3 separate regions of the Homo sapiens genome follow, and all the other regions are reported to be linked to region 1. The links are microRNA targets in miRTarBase. Many come from high-throughput screens and were not tested one by one. Region 1 holds a microRNA gene; each other region holds the end of a gene's coding sequence. Distances are between the middles of the regions.

Evidence for each region. The annotated mature microRNA hsa-miR-4803 reads UAACAUAAUAGUGUGGAUUGA and lies in region 1 at 2,484-2,504, opposite strand. An mRNA with a match to its seed (bases 2 to 7 or 8) in the 3' UTR can be bound and repressed. Matches are read on the target gene's strand: a 7mer-m8 pairs with bases 2 to 8, a 7mer-A1 pairs with bases 2 to 7 and ends in A, and an 8mer does both.
Region 2: the mRNA of GALM is a reported target of hsa-miR-4803. Seed matches in the 3' UTR shown: 7mer-A1 at 2,047-2,053.
Region 3: miRTarBase lists GPR151 as a target of hsa-miR-4803. Seed matches in the 3' UTR shown: 7mer-A1 at 1,636-1,642 and 7mer-m8 at 1,893-1,899.

The regions. Positions count from the first base shown.
Region 1 is chr5:72,167,737-72,171,979 of GRCh38, reverse strand. MIR4803 (microRNA 4803) reads right to left here and starts at 2,513; the gene lies at 2,440-2,513. All of the region lies in intron 2 of MAP1B (microtubule associated protein 1B), which reads right to left.
Region 2 is chr2:38,732,662-38,736,904 of GRCh38, forward strand. GALM (galactose mutarotase) reads left to right here. Exons shown (of 7, transcript NM_138801.3): 7 at 827-2,104. The coding sequence ends at 904. LOC124905993 (a long non-coding RNA gene) reads right to left here and starts at 889. Exons shown (of 3, transcript XR_007086292.1): 1 at 805-889.
Region 3 is chr5:146,510,851-146,515,093 of GRCh38, reverse strand. GPR151 (G protein-coupled receptor 151) reads left to right here. Exons shown (of 1, transcript NM_194251.3): 1 at 1-1,950. The coding sequence ends at 240. It overlaps TCERG1 (transcription elongation regulator 1), which reads right to left. Exons shown (of 23, transcript NM_001382548.1): 23 at 3,133-4,243. Among named protein-coding and RNA genes, the nearest start is that of GPR151, 3.2 kb to the left of the region's middle.

The sequences.
Region 1 (4,243 bases):
TCCACTGCATCATTTCAAAACTCCACTGCATCATTTCAAAGGGTGAGGTGGAGATGGATCATTCGTAAGTGACGACAGAATCAGCACCTACGCATTTCCTCTTTGCACGGTGCCTGTGTTGTTCAGTCATGGCTGGATGCCTAGCTGCCCAGAACAGCACACCCGGTTCCCAGTGACCTTGGTTCTTCCCTCTTCCAGACCTGAAGGGTGATTCTCGGCACACCAGGGGCACAGTCCTGATTCTACTTTCCTGTTCTTTATCCTTAGTTACAGGCCCTGTCTGGGAAACCAAAATGATGTCTCATTTAAAGCCTAGTTCTCAACTTCTCCCATTTGGGTTTGATTGAATCCCAAACACGTTTCTTCCACTTTAAAAAAAAAATTTTTTTTGAGGGAGGGTCTCACTCTATCACCCAGGCTGGAGTGCAGTGGCATGAACATGGCCCCCTGCAGCCTCGACCTCCTGGGCTCAAGTGATCCTCCCAACTCAGCATCCCCAAGTAGCTAACACTACAGGTGTGTGCCACCATGCCCAGCTAATTTCTTCTGTTTTTTGTAGAGATGGGGTCTCACTATGTTGCCCAGGCTGGTCTCAAACTCTTGGGCTCAAGTGATCCTCCCACCTCAGCCTCCCAAAGTGCTGGGATTACAAGTGTGAGCCACTGCAGCTGTCCTTCTTACACTGTTAAATGCCTTTTCTTTAAACTCTTGGCCCACAGATGGTCTTTCAAGACCTCGACTGCATCTTCAGGCACTATCCTTTGCTATGTTTATCTCAAAAATGTCCCCCGAAAAGCCACCATATTTGCTCATGTTTTCCTCTTTACCCTTTTTCCTTATTCTGAGCAGGGAAGACTTCAGTCTTTTCCCCCTTTCACTTTACCCTTTCCTACTCTATGTTGTCCTGACACGCAGCAGCAAGAGAAGGGTGTCACTTTTGAAGGCTTGATAAGCTACATGAACATAAAGCTTTGGATAGATATTCTAGCCCTATATATTAAACATTATTTTATGTTATTTTATTTTATTTTTGAGATGGAGTTTTGCTCTTGTTGCCCAGGCTGGAGTGCAGTGGCACGATCTCGGCTTACTGCAACCTCTGCCTCCTGGGTTCAAGCTACTTTCCTGCCTCAGCCTCCCGACTAGCTGGGATTACAGTGACCTGCTACCACATCTGGATCATTTTTTGTATTTTTAGTAGAAACAGGGTTTCACTGGTCTCGAACTCCTGACCTCAGGTGATCCACCCACCTCAGCCTCCCAGAGTGCTGGGATTACAGGCGTGAACAACCGCGTCTGGCTATATTAAACATCAAAGAGGACCACGCAACAAGGTCTTGGCAGGTTAACTGTTCTGATCACCTCTTCAGAGGCTCTGCCACAGGGGATACTGAGCCACTGTGTATGGGATAGTCCCAGCTCCTCTCGGTGGGCAGAAGGAGGAGAAATTTAATAAAAGAACTTTCTCCAACTAAACCTTTCACCACTTCTCCTTCAACCAAATCCAAACCCTGTATTTCAGCAGTAAAAGATTTATTAAAAGGCTAAATAAAACATTTAGTAAAGGGTAAATGCTTGCACGAACTATTGAGTACTCTCTTGGAAACATCATACAGAGAGCTGACCTTCTTGTAAAAGCTTCCCTTCATACCATTGTTTTTAGAGCAGATAAAGAGATGTGAAACCCAGCTTGCTGCTGACTCAGGCCTATGGAGAATCATACTTTGACGGATAGGATGCAGGCCCTTGGCTTTTAAATTAGCCATTGAGTTTTCCATTTCACCTAATAGCATTCAACTTAAAGAGCCATACTACTAAAGCTTACATGAAATAGACTGGTAATTTACAATGCTGATGTGTTCATTTAATTTCCACTAACAGGAATCTAAATTTTTAGTAAATCAGATATTCATGCCAGTTGGTCACTGCATTCATTTTTTGCCCTAGTGGGATACTTTGCTTGAAGGTTGTTTTAAATAAAGAGTGTTGTTTGGTGATAGAATTTACTGTGCCATAAAATAAGGCATCATACCTACTTAAATCTAATCCATTTCTTACATGTTCAGCTCATATTTTTATTTCCTCAGGGAGTATCTCTCTGTCCACTTCAATTCCCAGAGTTGTCTCTTATCCCCAAATTCTGGTATAGCAGTTAACAGTCTCTATACTATATAGCTCAATTAGAGGATGTACATAGTATTTATATGAGCTATTGCCTCCAACCAACTTATAAGACTCTAGTTAACAAAATGCTTTTACATACTTTCATGTACCTCTCATTGAACTTCCTGTGAAGGTGGCAATTTCTATGTAAATCTCACAAAGCCTAGATCCGAGCCTTCCACCTATAGGGATTTAGGTGATGACAATCTTTTGCAAAAAAGGACAACTAAAAATATAGATACCCATAGTTACACACAAACACTCACTCCACTTCTGAATGGGATTTAACATCATAGTGTGGGTTGAAATGTGTGTGTGATTCAATCCACACTATTATGTTAAATCCCACTCAGAGGGATTTAACAAGCAAAGTAAACAATCAAAGTGTGATTTGCTTACTTTGTCTTTAGAAGTAAGCAAATCAGGTGATCTACCTTCAGGATCTGAAAAATATACACCTGGGCCATCATTAGAAGAAACCCACTGCCATGCATAAATAATTAAAAAGAAGACATTGCCTAGCTCTTTTCAAGTGATTAGGGCCAAAAACTGCCCCAAAGTGTCAGGAGTTGTTTGTGTGTTTGGTTTTCTCACACGCGCATTGGATTTTGCCTGTGGTCATTCTGCCACCCCTTAAGATCTCTTAAGGAATTAAAATGAGGCATCGTTAGATTTCATTTTGATTTTATATTCAACGACAAGGTCTTCACAAGGTCACTATTAATGGGGTGCCACAGTATGCCCCCAAACCATATTTTTTGCTGAAGGTTGATTTCTTACCTTAACAACCTATTTTTTATTTGTTTTAAGATGAGTACCGTTGACCTCTGGGATATTATAATTGAAAGAATACATCTGCTTATTTAGGAAAATGTGATGTAGTAAACCAAAGGAATTAAGTTCTGGGCCATATATTTAATTAATGGTTTACTTAACAAACAGAGATTTGTTTCTGAGGCAATTCAACCAAATCTGGCCAATGGGCATTTTCAAGGCATTGATAAATGTACTCTGAACCAACAGACGTAGCTCTCCTGAGAAACAGGTCTGAAACCCATGACAAAGAGCAAGTCAAACAAGGTAGTCAAATAAATTCTGTCCTCTTCTATCTTCTTTTTAAAAGACTGAAATTTTAGTTTAAAATGAGTCCAAGGAGGGAGGGAAATAATCTGGGGACTTTGGGGAAAATTGCCCTTGAGCAAATCCCCAGATTTTAATTTCCATGAGAAGTAACAAGTTCTCTTAAGAAAGGCAGCATGCATAAAATCACTTTCTACATTCCTGTCTTGCATTATTCTCCATTGGGTATTTTTTATGTATTTATATACACTTGGAATATATGCAATGATCCATATGTATGCTAATCAAAGTTCTTAGAATGTATTACTCTTTGCTCTTTCGTAAATAAAATAGTATAAATTGGGAGCATATTTTGTCTCTGTAAAAATGCCAACAGGTAAGCCGGCCCTAGAGAAAAATGGACCAAATCAAGCTCTGCCAGAGCTCTGGAGTTTAACTGAAAGAAAGAACATCTGATTCCTGCCCAGAAAGCAACACTGAACACCTCATTTATTTTGGAGCAGAGGCTGTTGCTGGAGAAGCTGGAAGGTGAGATGGAGCACCCTAAGGTTGCCGAGGGCACCACTGCTCAGTGTAAACTCAGATATCTGGAAAATGCAAGGCTTCAAAGTTAAGGATTGGAAAGGCAGGAGGTGAGCAAGCCTGAGGCCCTCCTCAGCTCAGGGCCTTGGCCAAGCGACAGGAGCTGGACAGGGGCAAGAGCCAAGTGGAGGAGCAGTGCTTTCCGTGCGTCAGCTATCCCTCCAGAGGAGAGTCTAACCACATTCCCGACTCCAGTTCTCTTTATTCTCATAATTCTTAAATGACAGAAGATGATGCCTTAATGTGTTATCTACATCGTTCTGAAAAATACTTGCATTTCCTTCCGTCACATCTAATCAAATTCATTATAAAAGTTCCTGTTTCGTAACTACAAAACTGCTCTAAAGAATGTTACTTTTTTATTTAAAAAAAATGAAGGGTTACTGGGGGAAAGAAAGTCTACTTATCAATACTTCTT
Region 2 (4,243 bases), not on the chromosome of region 1:
TGTAATCCCAGCACTTTGGGAGGCTGAGGCGGGAGGATTGCTTGAGCCTGAGATTGAGGCTAACCTGGGCAACACAGGGAGACCCCATCTTTACAGATTATTAGAAAAATTAGCCAGGTGTGGTAGTGCACACCTGTGGCCCCAGCTACTTGGGAGGCTGAGGTGGGAGGATCCCTGAGCCTGGGAGGTCAAGGCTGCAGTGAGCCATGATCACACCACTGCACTCCAGCCTGTGCAACAGAATGAGACCCTGTCTTTAAAAAAAAAAAAAAAAAAGGGCCAGGTGCGGTGGCTCACACCTGTAATCCCAGCACTTTGAGAGTCTGAGGCAGGTGTATCACTTGAGGTCAGGAGTTCGAGACCAGCCCGGTCAACATGACAAAACCCTGTCTCTAGTAAAAATAAAAAAATTATCTGGGCATGGTGGCAGGTGCCTGTGATCCCAGCTACTCTGGAGGCTGAGGCAGGAGAATCGCTTGAACCCAGGAAGCGGGGTTTGCAGTGAGCTGAGATCGCCCCACTGCACTCCAGCCTGGGCAACAGAGCAAGACTCCATCTCAAAAAAAAAAAAAAAAAGCCTACACCTTACACCAGATTATAGATCAACACACTGCTTCCCTTCATCAGGAAAGCCTTCCTTTAACAAAGTGTGCTTTTTTCACTCTGATTAAAGTTCTTTATCTCACTATGAACCAATCATAAACAGTTCCCGCACTGGCAGCCATCCACAGAGCACTGGTCTAGAAGCCCGTCCAGAAGCACACCCAAATGGTTAATGTTGCAGCCTGCGGTGTCAAGCATCACCTGTGTTGTTTCCCCTTCACAGCCCCGCTTCCCTCCTGTGCTGCTGAGGCCTGGTGAGGAGTATGACCACACCACCTGGTTCAAGTTTTCTGTGGCTTAAGGAAGTGTGAAGATATGATCCAGTCCAGGGCTAGGCTCAGCCACCTGTCTCCTGTCCAGAAAAAAGGTGAAGATTAAGAAGCTTTCAGAATGATTCTATGGATTAAAATCATACAAATGGTGGCTGTTCTGAGAATCAGTCTGGGTATTGATTTCCTTTTCCAGTGACTGGCTCCAGGCCATGTCTAATGACCAGCTCGATTCCCTGTGCAGTTCAGAGGGCAAGTGAACCCAACCAACAATGTCGTCATCTAAGCCCTGACCCTAGCCAGGGACTCCCATGCTGCTGTTGGCTCCATCTCTCCACACTGCCTCTTTCTTTTCAACTTTTTGCCCTTCCTTTCTTTAAAGCTATTCTCACATTGCTTTTATTTCCTCCTCCTTCACCTCCAACCACTGTCAGCAGCACTCTGGAGTTTTCAAATGTCACATTAGCCTCACCCTGCATGCTAGGAGATGGACCTGTCTCTATACAGCAGTAGATGATTGATAAGTGAGGAAACTGAGGCTTACAGAGGTTGAAGACCAACAAGCTAATAAATAAAAAGTTGAGGCCGGGCACGGTGGCTCACGCCTGTAATCCCAGCACTTTGGAAGGCCGAGGCAGGCGGATCACGAGGTCAGGAGATCGAGACCATCCTGGCTAACACGGTGAAACCCCGTCTCTACATAAAAAATTAGCTGGGTGTGGTAGCACGCACCTGTAGTCCCAGCTACTTGGGAGGCTGAAGCAGGAGAATCGCTTGAACCTGGGAGGTGGAGGTTGCAGTGAGCCGAGATCATGCCACTGCACTGGGCAACAGAGCAAAACTCGATCTCAAAAAAAAAAAAAAAAAAAAGGAAAAAAAAGCAGCTCTCTCTCTCGGGAGAGGGAGGGGACTTCCGAGAGGAAAAGGCCTGCAAGAGCCTTTGGGTTAACTGAGAAAGCACAGCCCGGCCAACGCTTGGGAAGAAAGACAGGCAAGCACTGGAAACAGGAGCTATTAGGGTGAGGAGAGAGCCTTGCCTTTCACAGCACAGTGAGGATGACATTGCACCAGGGACAGAGATTGTATGTGACAAGGCTGGGGCTCCTTCTTTCCTAGACAATCAAAGTATCAGTGATGGGTTTTGGTTGGTGATTTTGAAAAAAAAAAAAAAAAGTATGTTATACTAGTGTATGCTGTACTGAATTGAAATAAAACCAAAATCTGCATCTTCAGAAGACTTGTTCCTTTACTCAGCTTGAAATCTCTCAGGCGTGGACCTTTGGGAAATGGACCAAGAATATGGGTGTGTTCTGGATTCTACTTTGCCCTCCAGTGGGAGCCCTGGCATTTTCCTACCTAACAGTTAGGAAAGCTATCTCAGTGGAAGTAGCTTTCCACACCTCCTCTTTCTTTGTAACCGATAATAAACCAAAGATCTTGTTTATTTTTTAATTCACTTCAGCATGGATTTTTCTGAGCACCTGCTCTGTACACAGCCCTCTGCTGGGTCTGTGAAGGGATTCAGGTCAGGTGTGATGCTGCCCACAGCAGCCAGTCAGGTGAGGTACATGCTCAGTTGTCTTCTCACTGGTGAGGTTAACTTTGGTGACTTGAGCAAGATGCTGCCTGCAGATCTCTCCACTCTTATTAAAGTTACCAATATATACATTAGCCAAGAGGCCTCAGAGGTGAACTATTAAGCTGACTGCAACCTAGCTACCAATTTGATTATTAAATTGTTCGACGCAGGGTTCTCATACTCTAGGTGCCAGCAATCATTTAGGAAATCCCAGAGAAGAAGAGAATGAACATTTTCTTATTCACAAGTGTAGAGTTGCCAGTTGCCCCTGCTTTCTGTATCCTGACCAAAAGTCACAGAGTGCCTTGACCTTTGTCACCTAGCCAGCTGCAGATTTTTCCTAGCAGGCTTGAACCCAAACCGGGCCTTGAACATTCCCAGGCACTGATAAATCTGTCTAGGTTGTTCCCTAAAACACTAAAAGAAACTGGCACTGGGCCGGGCGCAGTGGCTCACGCCTGTAATCCCAACACTTTGGGAGGCCGAGGCGGGTGGATCACCTGAGATCAGGCATTCAAGACCAGCCTGGCCAACATGGTGAAACCCCGTCTCAACTAAAAAAAAAAAAAAAAATACAAAAAAATTAGCTGGGCATGGTGGCGGGTGCCTGTAATCTCAGTTAGTCGGGAAGCTGAAGCAGGAGAATTGCTTAAGCCCAGGAGGCGGAGGTTGCAGTGAGCCAAAATCATGCCATTGCACTCCAGCCTGGGTCACAGCAAGACTCTCATTGCACTCCAGCCTGGGTGACAGCAAGACTCTGTCTCAAAAAAAAAAAAAAAAAAAAAGAAAAAGAAAAAAGAAACTGGCTCTGGCCCTGAGCCAAATTCCTTTAACTGTCATAGAAACTCCCTCACTGCTGATATACCTGGGCAGAACACCCCTTTTCTCTCTCAACCATTGCTGCAGCACTCTGTAAGGAAGTTCCTCTAATAAATGCTTTGGATTGATCACCCTGGCGCTTAGAGCTTCTTTCTTTGAAATCCCAGCCGGCCCTATCTCGAGATAGTTTGGATCACTCCCTGATGGGGTCTCCCCTGCTGCCACTATGGGGGCGATTCCAGCCCTGGATCCACTGAGACAAAACAAAGAAATGTAACAACTACAAACTAGTTCTTAATGTAATGGCCTCTAGGTTTGAGAATGCCAAATTAATTAATTAATTAGCCAAATACTTTGTTTTCTTCTGTCCAAAAAGATTATTGTTTTTATAAGAAGCCAAGTCTACAGTAGTCCAAGTAAGGATATTCATTGCCTGTAGGGCAGCTGAAATAAGTTACTGGCCTTTAAATTAATGGTGTTTATAAAAGCAAGTAAAAAAGGCGGCCAGGCGCTGTGGCTCACATCTGTAATCCCAGCACTTTGGGAGGCCAAGGTGGGTGGATTGCCTGAGGTCAGGAGTTTGAGACCAGTCTGGCCAACCAGGTGAAACCTGGTTTGAGACCAGTCTGGCCAACCGTCTCTACTAATAATACAAAAAAATTAGCTGGGCGTGGTGGCATGCACCTGTAATCCCAGCTACTCAGGAGGCTGAGAGAGGGAAATTGCTTGAACCAGGGAAGTGGAGGTTGGAGTGAGCCGAGATCTCGCCACTGCACTCCAGCCTGGGCGACAGAGCGAGACTCTGTCTTAAAAAAAAAAAAGGCTACATTTGTCACACCATGCATCTGAGGGAAGCAAAAATTTAGAGAAACTCTTTTTGTGGCAGCAACCAATCTGTCCTTTTTCATGAAACACATAACTTTGCTTGAGAAGCCCTTCCATGTGCTTATAAGACATAGATTGTGACATGTGA
Region 3 (4,243 bases), 74 Mb from region 1:
GGCAACTCAGAGGGTCTTCCTGACAAGGTTCCATCTCCAGAATCCCCAGCATCCATACCAGAAAAAGAGAAACCCAGCTCTCCCTCCTCTGGCAAAGGGAAAACTGAGAAGGCAGAGATTCCCATCCTTCCTGACGTAGAGCAGTTTTGGCATGAGAGGGACACAGTCCCTTCTGTACAGGACAATGACCCTATCCCCTGGGAACATGAAGATCAAGAGACAGGGGAAGGTGTTAAATAGATTTAAGTTTCAAAGCAAAACAAACTGTGATTATTGTATTTACTTGTACTGCTGCTTATCAATATTGCTGACTTTACAAACTGATATAATTATTACCATTAGGAATTATAAAAATATTTCACAATCTACACTTTCCAAATGTGCAATGTGGTAAGTAGAGAACCATGTTAGAAGTAATAATTGTTTCAGAATTAGAACTTGGCTTCCCAAACAATTTAAGTGTTGTGTAAAGATGTTGCTGTCAAAGTGATTAGACAGCCTGGCTATTCTGTCATTTGTTCACAGTGGTTTTACTGGGTACCCCCTAGGACCAGCCCTGTAGTGGACCGGCTGGAGCCTGCAGTAGAGGTTCTGTCAAAGCTGAGCCCCTTTACCTTCAGTTTCACCCAGGACCTGCTAGTCCTAATTTTACCTACTAAATTGTATTTCACATAACCAAAGCTCAAAATCTACTTTCACTTGAGATTTTTAACACATTAATGATAAATTTTAATGCGTTCTTCATTTACTTAATAAGTGTTAATTTACTTGATGAAAAGTCCGTATCATAATGTTCATGACTGAAGGTCAAAGAAAAAGAAACAGCACCTTATTCCAATTCTGGACTCATTTCAAGCCATGGCTGGTTCTGGCCAAGTTTAAATAAATTCAAACTTAAACTAAAGCCTGCTTCAGTGAACTTTTTAAAGCTACCTGAATGAGTCTTCAGTTTCTAAGTCTAAGAATTGTAGCAGCTTTCCAATGACATTCAGTAGTCTGATATGGGGGAAAAAATACTTAAAAAAATGTCCTCTCTTCACTTCCAAAATGTGGGAAAGTTATTTTTCTATAAGCAGAAATGTGTTCCTCCTAATATCTCCTTTCTCCCAAGATAAACCATGGTTAATGATATAGGTATAGATTACTCCTCAAATACAAATAGAAGATGGAGATGGTGATCTTTCTTGTTAATGGTACTAAACTTACCCTTACTCAGAACATTGAACTTGAACCCTACTCAACTTTTAAAATACTATAGGCTAAGTTATAAAAATAATCTAGCAACCTGAGAAAGAGATTAATATCAAAAAGAGAAAATTCAACAAACCAAGACAGAATTTGGTTAAGAATACAAAATAAAAAGCATAAGGGCAATGCAGAAAGCAGTAAAACTGTGTACCCAGACATACGGTAAAATCTGAGTAACAGGCAATAACCATTCATTTTATAGCAAGGTAAAACATACCCAATAAAACATGATTATGATATATTTCTGCCCCTTTTAAGTATAATGACATTCACCCATGATTCTTGATTACTTTGTTATGGAACTCGGGTATTTTCACTGAAAGTTTCCCTCAGAATAGAAATGCCTTTAGGGCAAACCAAGCCATGGAGAATCTGAAATATAAAGGATATGTTATGGAAAAAAAAAGATTTTGCTTTTTGTCTATGGGTTTCCGGATTCTTTGCTTTTTCATAAGTGGTCATAGTTTGCTTTTTAACACAGGAGGTAGGGCTGTATTCTTTTTACATCCTTCATTACAAATTTTATTTGAAGCTCATGTATTCAAATAAAGTAAAATTTAACCCAAGAATCCAAAATATTGTCTTGTGATATGGTAGTTATAAAAAGGATTATCATTGTCTGTGATTATTTGAATAAATAATTTTTATGTTCATTATATGTAGTAAATTTAGGATGTAAGCTTCCAGGGTTTGACACTTTAAACTTGTAAAGAAATAAAAATAATTACGCTTTACTTCCGATAGTTTTTGGAGATTTAAAGCTGTCTTTGTCTTGAATTATCATTCCAAAATCATTATTAGGAACAATGGAGCTTTATGGGGCTGTTTGACCTTAACACTGGAACAGGTCTCAAGGTGAACTGATTTTCAGAGTTTGCTAACAAGCACCAAATCAAGATGCAGACACTGGAACAAAGAGTAATTACAATGAACCTTTCATTAAGAACCTGATACACAAAGTTAAGTCCCGACTTGATCCCTTAAAAAATCTGCTTAGAGAAGTTTGATTTGTATCTTATCTGATCAAACCCAGATACTTTAAGACAAAAGTAGGAAATTAGAACAGATATCACCAAACTGTTTTCTTCTCACTTCTCTACTGTGAGAAACAACGTAGTAAGTGGGCAAACAATATTATGTGGAATTCAGAATAACAAAATAAGGCATTCTGGAAACTTTACCCTTGTGAGACAGTCGTATTTCTACATACTACATAATAGTTGTGCTCCTTTTGGCAAGCACTTCAATTTCATTCCTCACAGTACTTAAAAATCACTCAATGAACTTATAAAATGAACTTCAAAGAAAGAAAAAAAAGGAAACAGAAGGCGGCCAGGTGTGGCGGTTGACGCCTGTAATCCTAGCACTTTGGGTGGCCGAGGTGGGAGAATGGCTTGAGGCTAGGAGTTTGAGGCCAGCCTGGGCAACAGAGTGAAACCATTTCCAAAAAAATTTTAAAAAGAAAAAAAAAAAAGCCAGACATGGTAATGCATGCCTGCAGTCTCAGCTACTCAGAAGGATCACTGAAACCAGGAGTTCAAAGTTACAGTGAGCTATGATGGCACCACTGCACCCCAGCCTAGGAGACAGAGTAAGATCCTTTGTACGCATAAAAAGAAAAAACATATCCTGTTTATCAACTTTACAGCTGAAGACCTTAGTCTGATCAATGCCAGGTTCCTACATAAAGAGTTCACAAAATTTCCATGGCACTTAATAGATTTAAGCTATGAACTATATAACATGGATGTGAATGTGTGTGTCTGTGACTGTATGCACACAACATACAAATACAGATCTGTTGGTATTCCTTCTTTCTAGGATTTGTTACAATCATAGTCGGTATGAGATAATGGAAAATAAATTATTCTATTAACATATATATTTTGTTAAACATTTTATTTATGTGGCACTCTGAAACGAGCAACCTATGAAGGCATAAAATAAAAAGATTTTTTTTTAACTCGGGAGGTAAAGCTAGATATATCAATTAGGAACTGATTCATGGTGTGATGTACACGACATGTTGAAAGAATGCCAAAAAGGCGCAAACCATCATACATTAATACAAAGGACAAAAACAAAAAAAACCCCAGCATCTTCTTGCTATGAGGCAATAAGGCACTGCTAAGAGACTTGAGCACCAAAATGATTCTCTACAAATTCCTTCCTTTTTATACTGCAAATACTGCATTATTATATTCAAACCTTTAAAAACTAGGTAATACTTAAGATTTAGAGTCAACTTACTTTGTGGGAAATTCTATTTGCTGCTTTTAAAAACAGGTTAAAATAAGCTCTTAAAAATTAAGTAACAATAATCATATACAATACAGATATATAAAAAGGGTTGGTTTATTGTAGTTCAAATACATAAACTGAACATTCAAACATCTTAAAATTAAACTTTAGCAACAAAGTTTAACATTCAAACAGGAGTATAGTTTACAAGAAACACCCAGAAAGGTAATTTGTTGTCTAATCCAGAATATTGATAAAGATCACTTAATGGTGAATAAAATATGTTTAACCAGTGGTTCTATTCTGGCCAACATGTTAGTTATGACCGTGGTTCCATACCTGAGAAGAAATTACTACATAAATCTTCTCTTAGGCTAAACAACAAGACTCGGTCTATAATTCAGAGGGGATAATCAAAGCACGTAAGTGAACAAATAAAACTAATCTGATCTTTAGAGACAAAGGTAAAAGTATTGTCCATTATAATAATTGTAGCCTCTGGAAGATAAGAATTCAATTTTCAGTGTTTTCTCTTTTACCCGCTTTAAAAAAAAAAAATCAAAACAAAACAAACCCCAACTCGGGTTTTCTTGGAGTCTGTGGTATTTGCATCTGGCAAGTTCAAGCCACAAATGCTCTTACTTCTTGCATGTATTAACACTGCTAGGAAGAACGTCACCAAGTCACTGACTTCCACACCTCATAAAAGGATGAATTTTAGCTTCAAGATTTTAAGATTTACTAGAGACAGCCT